3 linked regions of the Homo sapiens genome follow. The protein of the gene in region 3 purifies or fractionates together with the protein of the main gene of each other region. This does not show direct contact. Each region holds a gene or a part of one and is shown on either strand. Other genes may lie near its edges. The genes, in order: LRP2, NOTCH3 and ZNF224.

Region 1 (3,657 bases), on a different chromosome or scaffold from region 3:
AGTTACTTCACTTTGAATAATAGTCTCCAGTTTCTTCCAAGTCACTGGGAATGCCATTAATTCCAGGACTATTCTTTAAATCTTATTTCATATATTTAAAAAAAATCACATTATTGATCATGTAACTGAACATATTATTTTAAGTGCCAGTTCATAGGCAAATTATGAGCAGATTTATATACTGACCTCCCTAATCCTCGCATGATTTGTAGAAGAAAACAAGTGAAGCCCCATTCTCTAACTATTATACAATAGTTGGGTTACTGGTTTCATACCTTTAGGTGTTATTGTATAAGCTCTAGTCTCTCCGATGTTGTTTTTAGATTGCTAACTCAGCTACTATATGTTGGTTATTAATTTTTAGAATAAATTATTTGGTGACCCAATTAAAGAAATTTGAGATGGGGTGGCGAGTAGCTAGGATCAAAAGTTACAAATGGATTTTGTTTTCATTTAGATGCCGCCGAATCCTCAAATGGCTGTAGCAACAACATGAATGCCTGTCAGCAGATTTGCCTGCCTGTACCAGGAGGATTGTTTTCCTGCGCCTGTGCCACTGGATTTAAACTCAATCCTGATAATCGGTCCTGCTCTCCATATAACTCTTTCATTGTTGTTTCAATGCTGTCTGCAATCAGAGGCTTTAGCTTGGAATTGTCAGATCATTCAGAAACCATGGTGCCGGTGGCAGGCCAAGGTATGCCAACTCCAATATAAGTAAGATTTGACTTCATCTGGCACCAGGTTGAAATCCCTGGTGCCATGAAAACATTTCTTCATGTGTGGATTCAGTGCATAATGAAGCTTTCCTTTCCCTTTAAATCAACTGGCACAGCCTAAAGTGTTTTTCAAACTTTAGTGTGTCTCAGAATCACCTGGAGGGCTCACGCCAACACAGCTCCAGACCTCGTCCCCAGATTTTTCTGATTTTGTAGTCTAGGGTAGGGCCAGAGAATCTGCACTCCTAATAAGCTCCCAGGGCATGCTGACGGTGCTGGCCCATGGATCACGCTAAGAACCACAGGCCCAGAGCAATATAGAATGTAGGATGGGTTTGCAAGAAGTACTACAGAGTTGGTGTTCCAAAGAACTGTGCCCTATTTCTGATTATTAATGGAGATTTATGGTAGAAGGTATACTACTATTTAATATGGTAATGAAATAGTCCACAAATATGATTTATTAATATATATTTGGTGAATTGAAGCAAAAGAGTTCACAGTGTCAGTCCCTCTTTAGTAATCATATTTTTGCAGCACTTTGTGCTTACATACTGTGAATGTATGAAACGATCACTTGCTTCCTAGATGAGCCAAGGTTTTTAGGTATACCTTAGCACAAGAGGAACTAAGAGTTTTCTAACATCGCTAGGAGAATGTCACAGGCTAAAGAGAGAAATAGAGGGTAGAAAGGAAGGAAAAAAGGATGAAGTCAATGAAGGGGTTGTAGAGATGGTCAGAAAATACAGAAATGCACCTGGAGAAGGGAATCAGAGAGCTTCCAGTCCCACACGTCCTCCTGCCTGATGGTCATGTTCACGTGGACCCATGACTCATCTTTGTTTTTCCATATCTAAAAAGTTATGGATCTAAGTTATCATCTTGTACAGATATGACAAATTCAATAGTTTTTTTCTCCCAGCTTTTCATTAAAAAAATGTTCAAACACAGAAACGTTGAAAGATTTAGGAAATATCCTTATACCCTTTACCAAGATTTAACAGTTGTTAACATTTCTTCACATTTGAGCTCTCAATTTGTATGTGTGTGTGTGTACATGCATATGCATTCACATTCATTTTTTATGAACCTTTTAAAAATAAATTTTAATACCATGCCACTTTACCCCTACATATGTTAGCATACAGTTTCAAAGGGCATTATGAAATATTCATAATCATATTTCTCCAGTTGGCCTCACAATATTTTATATATAGCTGTTTTGTTCCATCCAAGATCTAATCAAGATTCATGCACTGCACTGGGAATATCTCATTAGTTTCTTCCAGTTTGGAGTAGTTGCCTCTAGCTTTTTGCTATGACATTGATGTTTTAAAGAGGCAGACCTGTTGTCTTTGAGAATCCCACACTGAGGATTTGTCTGAATATTTAGTCTGTCTTTCATTTTTTACCCTGCAGTTCTCATGAAATGGAAGTTAGGTCTAATTGCTTGATTAGATCAAGGTTAAATACATTTAGCAATAATACTTTATAGGTTATGCTGTGTTAGTTGATACAGAATCTTATTAGGAAGAACATAATGTCAGCTTGCCCTGCTCTTAGTGGCATTTGAGTTTGATCACTTGGTTAAGGTGGTCACTGCTACACTGCTGCTTTTTAAAGCTGTATTTTTTTTCCTTCTTAATTTTGGTGGAATCTATGCAATCACACTTAGGCCCTGTGAATGTCTTGGCTCCCAAGCACCTTTTACCCATTGGTTTTGGCAGCCATGGATGATCCTTGTTTGAAATGATTATTTAATCGAGGATTGCAAAATGGTGATTTTCTTATTTTAGCATTCCCTTTACATTTGTTAGATAATATTCTTCTATAAAGGAAAGCTCTTCGTGTCTCCCCGGTTTACTTTTTAAATAATTTATTATTATTATGGGCTCAAATTTTTATTTTTTAAATTCAGTGTGTTACAGTCAATTACTGTAATCCTTCTTTTGATGTTTTAGTGGATCCATTTTGGCCAGGGAGAACCTCTTCAAGTGGCGACCTGTATATTTCTGTGTATGCCTTGTTTCTTGGTACAATAAGATGTTTCACACTCACTTCGTACCTTCCCTGCCTAAACCTATAATCAACATTTCTCCCGGGAGCCAGAGCTCCTTATTGTGGGAAAGAGTAGAAACCAAGATGTGGGTCTGCTCACTGCAACTGGGAAAAAAGGGTTTCATTTTGTAATGGGGAGATGCTCAGAGCAGGGGGTTGGGAATGAGGGTTTGAGAGGAAGGGCAGACATTTAAAAGTTCTAATTTCAGTGACAGCATTTTTTAATGATCTTTTCTTAACTTCCAGGACGAAACGCACTGCATGTGGATGTGGATGTGTCCTCTGGCTTTATTTATTGGTGTGATTTTAGCAGCTCAGTGGCATCTGATAATGCGATCCGTAGAATTAAACCAGATGGATCTTCTCTGATGAACATTGTGACACATGGAATAGGAGAAAATGGAGTCCGGGGTATTGCAGTGGATTGGGTAGCAGGTATGTAAGCTATATGGTGATTTTAATATGTTTGCATCTCTGTCATCTTATTTTATGCTAGAAAGTTTAGCCTAACTCCATGTGCTACAGGTTTGTTTTTCTAGACAATTATTAAGACCATTTAAGATACATTGAATCTAGATTAAGCTACGTGTCTATTTGATAAATGATACGGTGTTTCAGTTTACAGATTTATAACAAATTAATCCTTATCATTTTCTTCTGTTATTAACATAATCTGGAGACAAAAGTGGCTAAAATATTAAATTATGTGGATTTGTTTTTTTTACACTTAGATTTGCACCTGATTTCTGCATTAGAAATTTTCTAAATTTTCAAGAGAAAGAGATATAAAAATATAAACTATGGAACAGCATTCATTTGCTTTGAAGCTGAGCAATTTTAGTTGCCAAATTCTTAATTGCTTCCTTTTATTCATATATAA
Region 2 (3,657 bases), about 29 Mb from region 3:
CACATGCCTTCAACGCTCACAGCAGCTCGGTCACACCCTGTAGCACACACACCATCCCTGCTGTCTCACAGTGACAGACACACACCATCCCGGCCAGTTGTCACATGCTCACACACCCACACCACTCAGCCACACACCCCATCATGCCCCATAGGCTCTGTGGCACCCCCATTCGGCTCACACTAGCAGGAGGTACGTGCATGAGCCCCTTCCCAAGGCCCCACACGCCCGCCCACATGCTCCCACTCACCGATCTGGGCTGCGGCCTCCCTGCAGGGCAAGCTTCGGATGTCACAGAGGCGTCCGCTCCATCCAGGGGGACAAAGGCAATAGGCCCCAGTCTGGACGCAGCGACCCCCGTTTTGACAAGGCTGGCGGCTGCACCAATCCACCAGCGTCTGGAGGGGAAGCACTCAGAGTCAGTACTGTGGGGTGGGGGGTAGTCTGGGAGAAACTGTGCCCCGACTTGGCTTCTCCCTCCTAGGATCCCAGGCAGGCTCCTCCCCCAGGTCCCCAGTAACTCCACCCACCTGGCACTGCGGGCCCGTGAAGCTCTCGAGGCAGGTGCAGCGGAAGCCAGGGTGGGCGGCGCTGCAGACGCCCCCGTGTAGGCAGGGCCGCGAGAGGCAGGGGTCTGCCTCATGTTGGCAGTGGGCTCCTGTGTAGCCGGGACGGCACAGGCAGCTGAACGAGTTCACGCCGTCCACACAGGTCCCGCCATTGAAGCAGGAGCTGGAGCGGAAGGAGTGGGAGGGAGGATCAGGCTCCGCCCCCTCACAGGCCCTGCCCTCCTTCCTGAGTCCCGCTGTTAGCGCTGGGGACGTCCCACTCCCTGACCCTTATCTCGGCAAGAAGCTGCAGCCCCAGCAGAAGCCAATCAGGTCCCTTAGCTCCAATTCACCAGGGACTTCAGCCCTAAGGTGAGAGCCACCTGGAAGCCATGCCCTCTCAGGCACCAGAGACTCCAAGGTGAGCTCCAAACAGACGCCCTGCTCCTTCCCTGGCCCTGCCCCATCAGTCATCAGAGTCCGCAGTGGGTACCAAGCTGAGGACTCCCCCAAGTCGTTGCTGTCCCCACTTCGTCCCAGGTCCCAGGCCCCATCCCAAGCCAGAGTCCCTGCTCTCCAAGCAGAGGCCCCGCCCACCTGGGGCTGCAGTCGGGCAGGTCCTGTTCGCAGTGGAAGCCTCCGTAGCCTGGCGGGCAGGTGCAGGTGAAGGAGGCCACGTGGTCGGTACAGGTGCCCGGGCCGCAGGGGTTGCTCAGGCACTCATCCACATCGCGGGCGCATCGTGGGCCGGCGAAACCAGGGAGGCAGGAGCAGGAAAAGGAGCCCACGCCGTCTTGGCACGAGCCACCGTTCAGGCATGGGTCTGCGGACAGGAGGAAGGCGGTCTGGTCACCTACCTTGCCCCCATTAGCCCAGTCTGACTGGGATATGCCTTGGATTGAGAAGAATTCAGGAGGAAACCAGGTTCAACTGGGATGGGGTGCATTTGGTCAGAGGAATCTAAATCCATCCCCTTCTGTGGCCTCGTCCCCTCCTTTATCTGGAAACCTCACCTATGTGGCAAGGGCAGGATGTTGGGAAAACCAAAAGGTCCCTTTAAGCTGCCAAGCAAACGCTGCTAATTGTGCCTGATCTAATTCCTGTGCTTGGAACAGGACAAGGACAGTGGCCATTAGCCACATGTGGCTACTGAGTCCTTGAAATTGTGACTAAATGGAGATGTGCTATAAATGTAAAATACATACTGGGTTTCAGATTTTGAAGACTTGGTATGAAAAAAAAAATAGGCTGGGCGTGGTGGCACACACTTGTAATCCCAGCACTTTGGGAGGCCGAGGTGGGCAGATCACTTGAGCTCAGGAGTTCGAGACCAACCTGGGCAACATGGCAAGACCCCATTTCTATAAAAAATACAAAAATTAGCTGGGCATGATGGTGCACACCTGTAGTCCCAGCTAGTGGGGAGGCTGAGACGGGAGGATCACTTGAGCCTGGGAGGTCAAGGCTGCAGTGAGTCATGATCGCACCACTGCACTCCAGTCTGGGCGACAGAGTGAGAACTTGTCTCAAAAAAAAAAAAGGAAACAATGTAAAATATCTCATTAACAATTTTATACTGGTTACATGTTGAAATGATATGTTAATATATTGGGTTAAATAGATTATATACATTTATTTATTTATTTATTTATTTACTTTTATTTTTATTTTTATTTTTTTTGAGATGGGGTTTCGCTCTTGTTGCCCAGGCTGGAGTGCAATGGCACGATCTCAGCTCACCACAACCTCCGCCTCCCGGGTTCAAGTGATTCTCCTACCTCAGCCTCCTGAGTAGCTGAGATTACAGGCATGTGCCACCACGCCCAGCTAATTTTGTGTTTTTAGTAGAGACGGGGCTTCTCCATGTTGGTCAGGCTGGTCTCAAACTTCTGACCTCAGGTGATCCACCTGCCTCAGCCTCCCAAAGTGCTGGGATTACCGGTGTGAGCCACTGCGCCCAGCCGATTATATACATTCAATAAATTAAATTTAAATATATTAAATTTGGTCAGGCACAGTGGCAGCAGTCTGAGAGTCCAAGGCAGGAGGATGGCTTGAGGCCAGGAGTTTGAGACCAGCCTAGACAACGCAGTGAGACCCCATCTCTACAGAATTAAAATAAAAATATTAGCTAGGCATGTAGTGAGTGCCTGTAATCCTAGCTACTCAGGAGGTTAAGACAGGAGGAATGCCTCAGCCCAGGAGTTCGAGACTGCACTGAGCCAAGATCGCACCACTGCACTCCAGCCTGGGCGACAGAGCCTCACTCTGAATACATAATAAATAAATAAATATAAAATATTAAATTTAATATCTCCCATTTCTGTTTATTTTTTAATGTGGCTACTAGAAAATTTAAAATTGCATATGTGGCTTGTGTTATTTATCTGTTTGGCAGCACCCCTTTTTGTTTGTTTGTTTGTTTGTTTGTTCGTTTTTGAGACGGAGTTATGCCTTGTTGCCCAGGCTGCAGTACAATGACACAATCTCAGCTCACCGTAATCTCCACCTCCAAGGTTCAAGTGATTCTCCTGCCTCAGCCTCCCAAGTAGCTGGGATTACAGGCATGCGCCACCATGCCCTGCTAATTTTGTATTTTTAGTAGAGATGGGGTTTCTCCATGTTGGCCAGGCTGGTCTCAAACTCCTGACCTCAGGTGATCCGCCCACCTTGGCCTCCCAAAGTGCTGAGATTACAGGTGTGAGCCACCTCGCCCGGCCTCTGGGGGGCCTTTTATCTCATACTTTGCACATGATATTAACTCGATTGCTCTCAAAGACAGTGCACTTAGGTCGGGTGTGGTTGCTCACGCCTGTAATCCCAGCACTTTGGGAGGTGGAGACAGGTAGATTGCTTGAGCCCAGGAATTGGAGACCACCGTGGGCAACATGGCGAAACTCCGTCTCTACAAAAAACACAAAATATTAGCTGGGCGCTGTGGTGTGCGCCTATAGTCGCAGCCACTGGGGAGGCTGAGGTGCTTGAGCCCAGAAGGCAGAGGTTGCAGTGAGCGATGATTGCAACACTGCACTCCAGCGACAGAGCTAAGACTCTGTCTCAAAAAAAAAAAAAAAAAAAAAAAAAAAAGAGGCAGCACACAGACTCCAAG
Region 3 (3,140 bases):
AAAAGTCAGAGTAGCACAATCGAAACAATAAGTTGCATCCAATATCAAAAATGGCACACTAAGCATTGTGACATTTTCTTTGCTTGTAGGGGGGTGATAAGCCCTATTTGTTCTATACCTTAGAAAATATATCACTTTAACTTAACACACTTAAGATATTACTATGGTGTATACCTGATGAATTAACATCTGACAATAGTTTGAATATGTATCCCCTCCAAATCTCATGTTGAAGTATGACCTCCAGTGTTGGAGGTCGGGACTATTGGAAGGTGCTTGGTCATGGAAGCAGATCCTTCATAAACATTGGTGTCCCCACCATGGTAATGAATGAGTTCGCACTCTTAATTCACACAAGAGCTGGTTGTTTAAAAGATCGTGGCATAAAAAAATTAAAAATGCATGGAAGTATAAAATGGAAAAATGCCTGCAAACACTCATTGCCAGCAAAGATCAGTAAAAATATTCATTTACACAGTATGTAAACACTCAAAAGAACATAAAACACACAAAGATATTTATTTGATTAGGTTATGAAGGCTAAAAAAAGCCACATTGTTTTTCTCCTTTTGTTATTGTGTCTATGTCATCATCTCATTGAGTTCATATTATTATAGGAATAAATGCAATTCACACAAATTCCTGTTCTTGAACACTTGTTCTTTCCATTTTAAAATGCAGTGACATCATCAATGTGGTCTTCTACTTTTTGGAGTTTTAGTGTCATAGGCATAGTTTCCTATCCTATGGTTTTCATATCAAACAGTTGCACCTTATACATTCTGGCATGTTCTGCTCTCCAAAAGACATATTTTTACTGCCAGCAATAAAGAGGAGGATTTAAATGTTACTCCTGCCCCCAATAATGAATATATTTGATGAAATTACCAAACTCCATTTTCTCTTCCTGTTTCATAGCGTTGGTGGAAGAATATTGGATAAGAAGGTTGACAAAAGCTGTCATTCAAATTTAGAATATTTTATACCAGAGAAGTTAAAAAAAAAAAAGAAATTGTACAGCAATTAAAAGGCAATCATACCAAGGCCTGCATAGAAATCACAAATCATGATCAATCTAGGATTGACTAAGAAAATTTCTGTCAATGTACATCTGGCACTTTAAAAGTGTTACTGTAAATCTTGCCTTAATACTGTTGAAAACACTTAATTGTGAAATATGCAGTGGTCTGTTATTGCAAAATTAACCAAACCTTTTCAGTCTATACTGTGAGAAAAACTACAAAAGATAATTAAATTTATACCGTATACAAGCAATGGACATTTCATAGAGCCACAAATAATACTCTGACTTCAGAGCACAGGATGGGGGGAAGCCAGGAGCCAAGTGCAATAAAATAATGTTCAATGAATATGATAAATCTGATCAAGAAAAAAATTTAAAAGAAAAAATAATAATATGCAAAATATTGCTATGGATTGCAGTACTGAGTTTACTCTGCATTTCAACTCATGTTTCCCAGAATTATTTTTTGCAGGCTTCCCTTTTTGGATACACAAAATTGTATCCAAATCCATACATATGTTTTATCCTTTCATTGATTTAACAAACAAGTACTGAACACATACAAAGTGCTAATCAATGTTAAGGCTGTGACGACTTAGCAGCAAAGACACATGTAGTTTACATTCTAGTGGACATCAATTTGGACATGTCCACCATTAGTCTGGTAAATTCATGAACTCTTACTCTTTCTAAGGCCTGTCTCCTGAATGATAGCTGTAATTATCAAACTTCTGAATGAAGCTTTATTGCACCATTTACAAGGATTCTCCATTATGGTGGTCCTGAGACTACTGGGGCATGCTGAGCTATGGCTGAAGCACTGATGTTATCTTAAACAAATGTTTTCCCTCTTCCAAGAATGGGTGAAATTTATCACCAGCATGGATTCAGAGATAAAATACTCAAAGGGAAGTGCTTACTATGTGCCTCATATTTTAATGTGTCTCTCCTTTGTGAACTTTCAGATGAGACTGCATTCATGAAGACTGAGTGAAGACTTTATTGCACCATCACATCACTAAGGTTTTTCTCCAACATGAACATTCTGATGAAGTCGAAGGCTTGAGGCCTGACTAAAGCACATATCACACTCCCTACACTTCCATGTTTTCTCTCCCATGTGGACCCTCTGATGCATATCAAGATTCAAGCGCCTGTTGTAGCCCTTCCCACAGTCCTCACATTTGTATGGCTTTTCTACACTGTGAACTTTTTCTTGCACTTTAGAGAATGAATTCTGTACAATGTTCTTCCCATGCTGCTCACATTTGAGAGGTGTTTCTCTGCTGTGGCGTCTCTGATGGGTCAGACGAGTTGAGGACCAGCTGAAGCCCTTCCCACACTCATCACATTTGTATGGCTTTTCTCCAGTGTGCACTCTTTGATGAGAATGAAGCTGTGAATTCTGAGTAAATCTTTTCCCACACTCTTCACATTTGAATGGTTTTTCTCCACTGTGCAGTCTCTGATGTTTCAAAAGACACGAGGCCCAGCCAAAACTCTTCCCACATTCCTTACAATTGTATGGTCTCTCTCCTGTGTGGACCTTCTGGTGCATATCAAGATTAAACTTACTATTGTAGCCCTTTCCACACTTCTCACATTTGTATGGCTTTTCTCCAGTGTGAACTCTCTGATGGGAATGAAGATGTGAATTTTGAGTAAATCTCTTCCCACACTCTTCACATTGGAATGGTTTTTCTCCACTGTGGAGTCTCTCATGTTTCAAAAGACATGGGGCCCGACTAAAGCTCTTCCCACATTCCTTACAATTATACAGTTTCTCTCCTGTATGGACGCGCTGGTGAAAGTCAAGATCCAACCTCCTTTTGTAGCCCTTCCCACACTCCACACATTTGTATGGTTTTTCTCCACTATGGGATCTCTGGTGGGAATAGCATTGTGAATTTGTGTAAAATCCTTTCCCACATTCTTCACATTTGAATGGTTTTTCTCCACTGTGGACTCGCTGATGTTTCAAAAGACACGAGGCCCATCTGAAGCTCTTCCCACACTCTTTACAATTATATGGCTTTTCTCCCGTGTGGACCATATGATGCGTATAAAGATCTCGCCTACAAATAAAGCCTTTTCCACACTCCTCACATTTGTATGG

The links.
Region 1: the proteins of ZNF224 (region 3) and LRP2 purify together in Homo sapiens (affinity purification with mass spectrometry; 2 studies listed by BioGRID and IntAct, with this or other methods). This does not show direct contact.
Region 2: the proteins of ZNF224 (region 3) and NOTCH3 purify together in Homo sapiens (affinity purification with mass spectrometry; 2 studies listed by BioGRID and IntAct, with this or other methods). This does not show direct contact.

Annotation. Positions count from the first base shown.
Region 1 is NC_000002.12:169,209,008-169,212,664, reverse strand, and holds part of LRP2 (low-density lipoprotein receptor-related protein 2 precursor), read left to right. Parts: intron 1-457; coding exon 458-697; intron 698-3,023; coding exon 3,024-3,212; intron 3,213-3,657. UniProt on the Homo sapiens protein: Multiligand endocytic receptor. Acts together with CUBN to mediate endocytosis of high-density lipoproteins. Mediates receptor-mediated uptake of polybasic drugs such as aprotinin, aminoglycosides and polymyxin B.
Region 2 is NC_000019.10:15,180,431-15,184,087, forward strand, and holds part of NOTCH3 (neurogenic locus notch homolog protein 3 precursor), read right to left. Parts: intron 1,372-3,657; coding exon 1,146-1,371; intron 733-1,145; coding exon 531-732; intron 399-530; coding exon 251-398; intron 1-250. UniProt on the Homo sapiens protein: Functions as a receptor for membrane-bound ligands Jagged1, Jagged2 and Delta1 to regulate cell-fate determination.
Region 3 is NC_000019.10:44,107,187-44,110,326, reverse strand, and holds the end of ZNF224 (zinc finger protein 224), read right to left. Parts: coding exon 2,043-3,140; 3' UTR 501-2,042; downstream 1-500.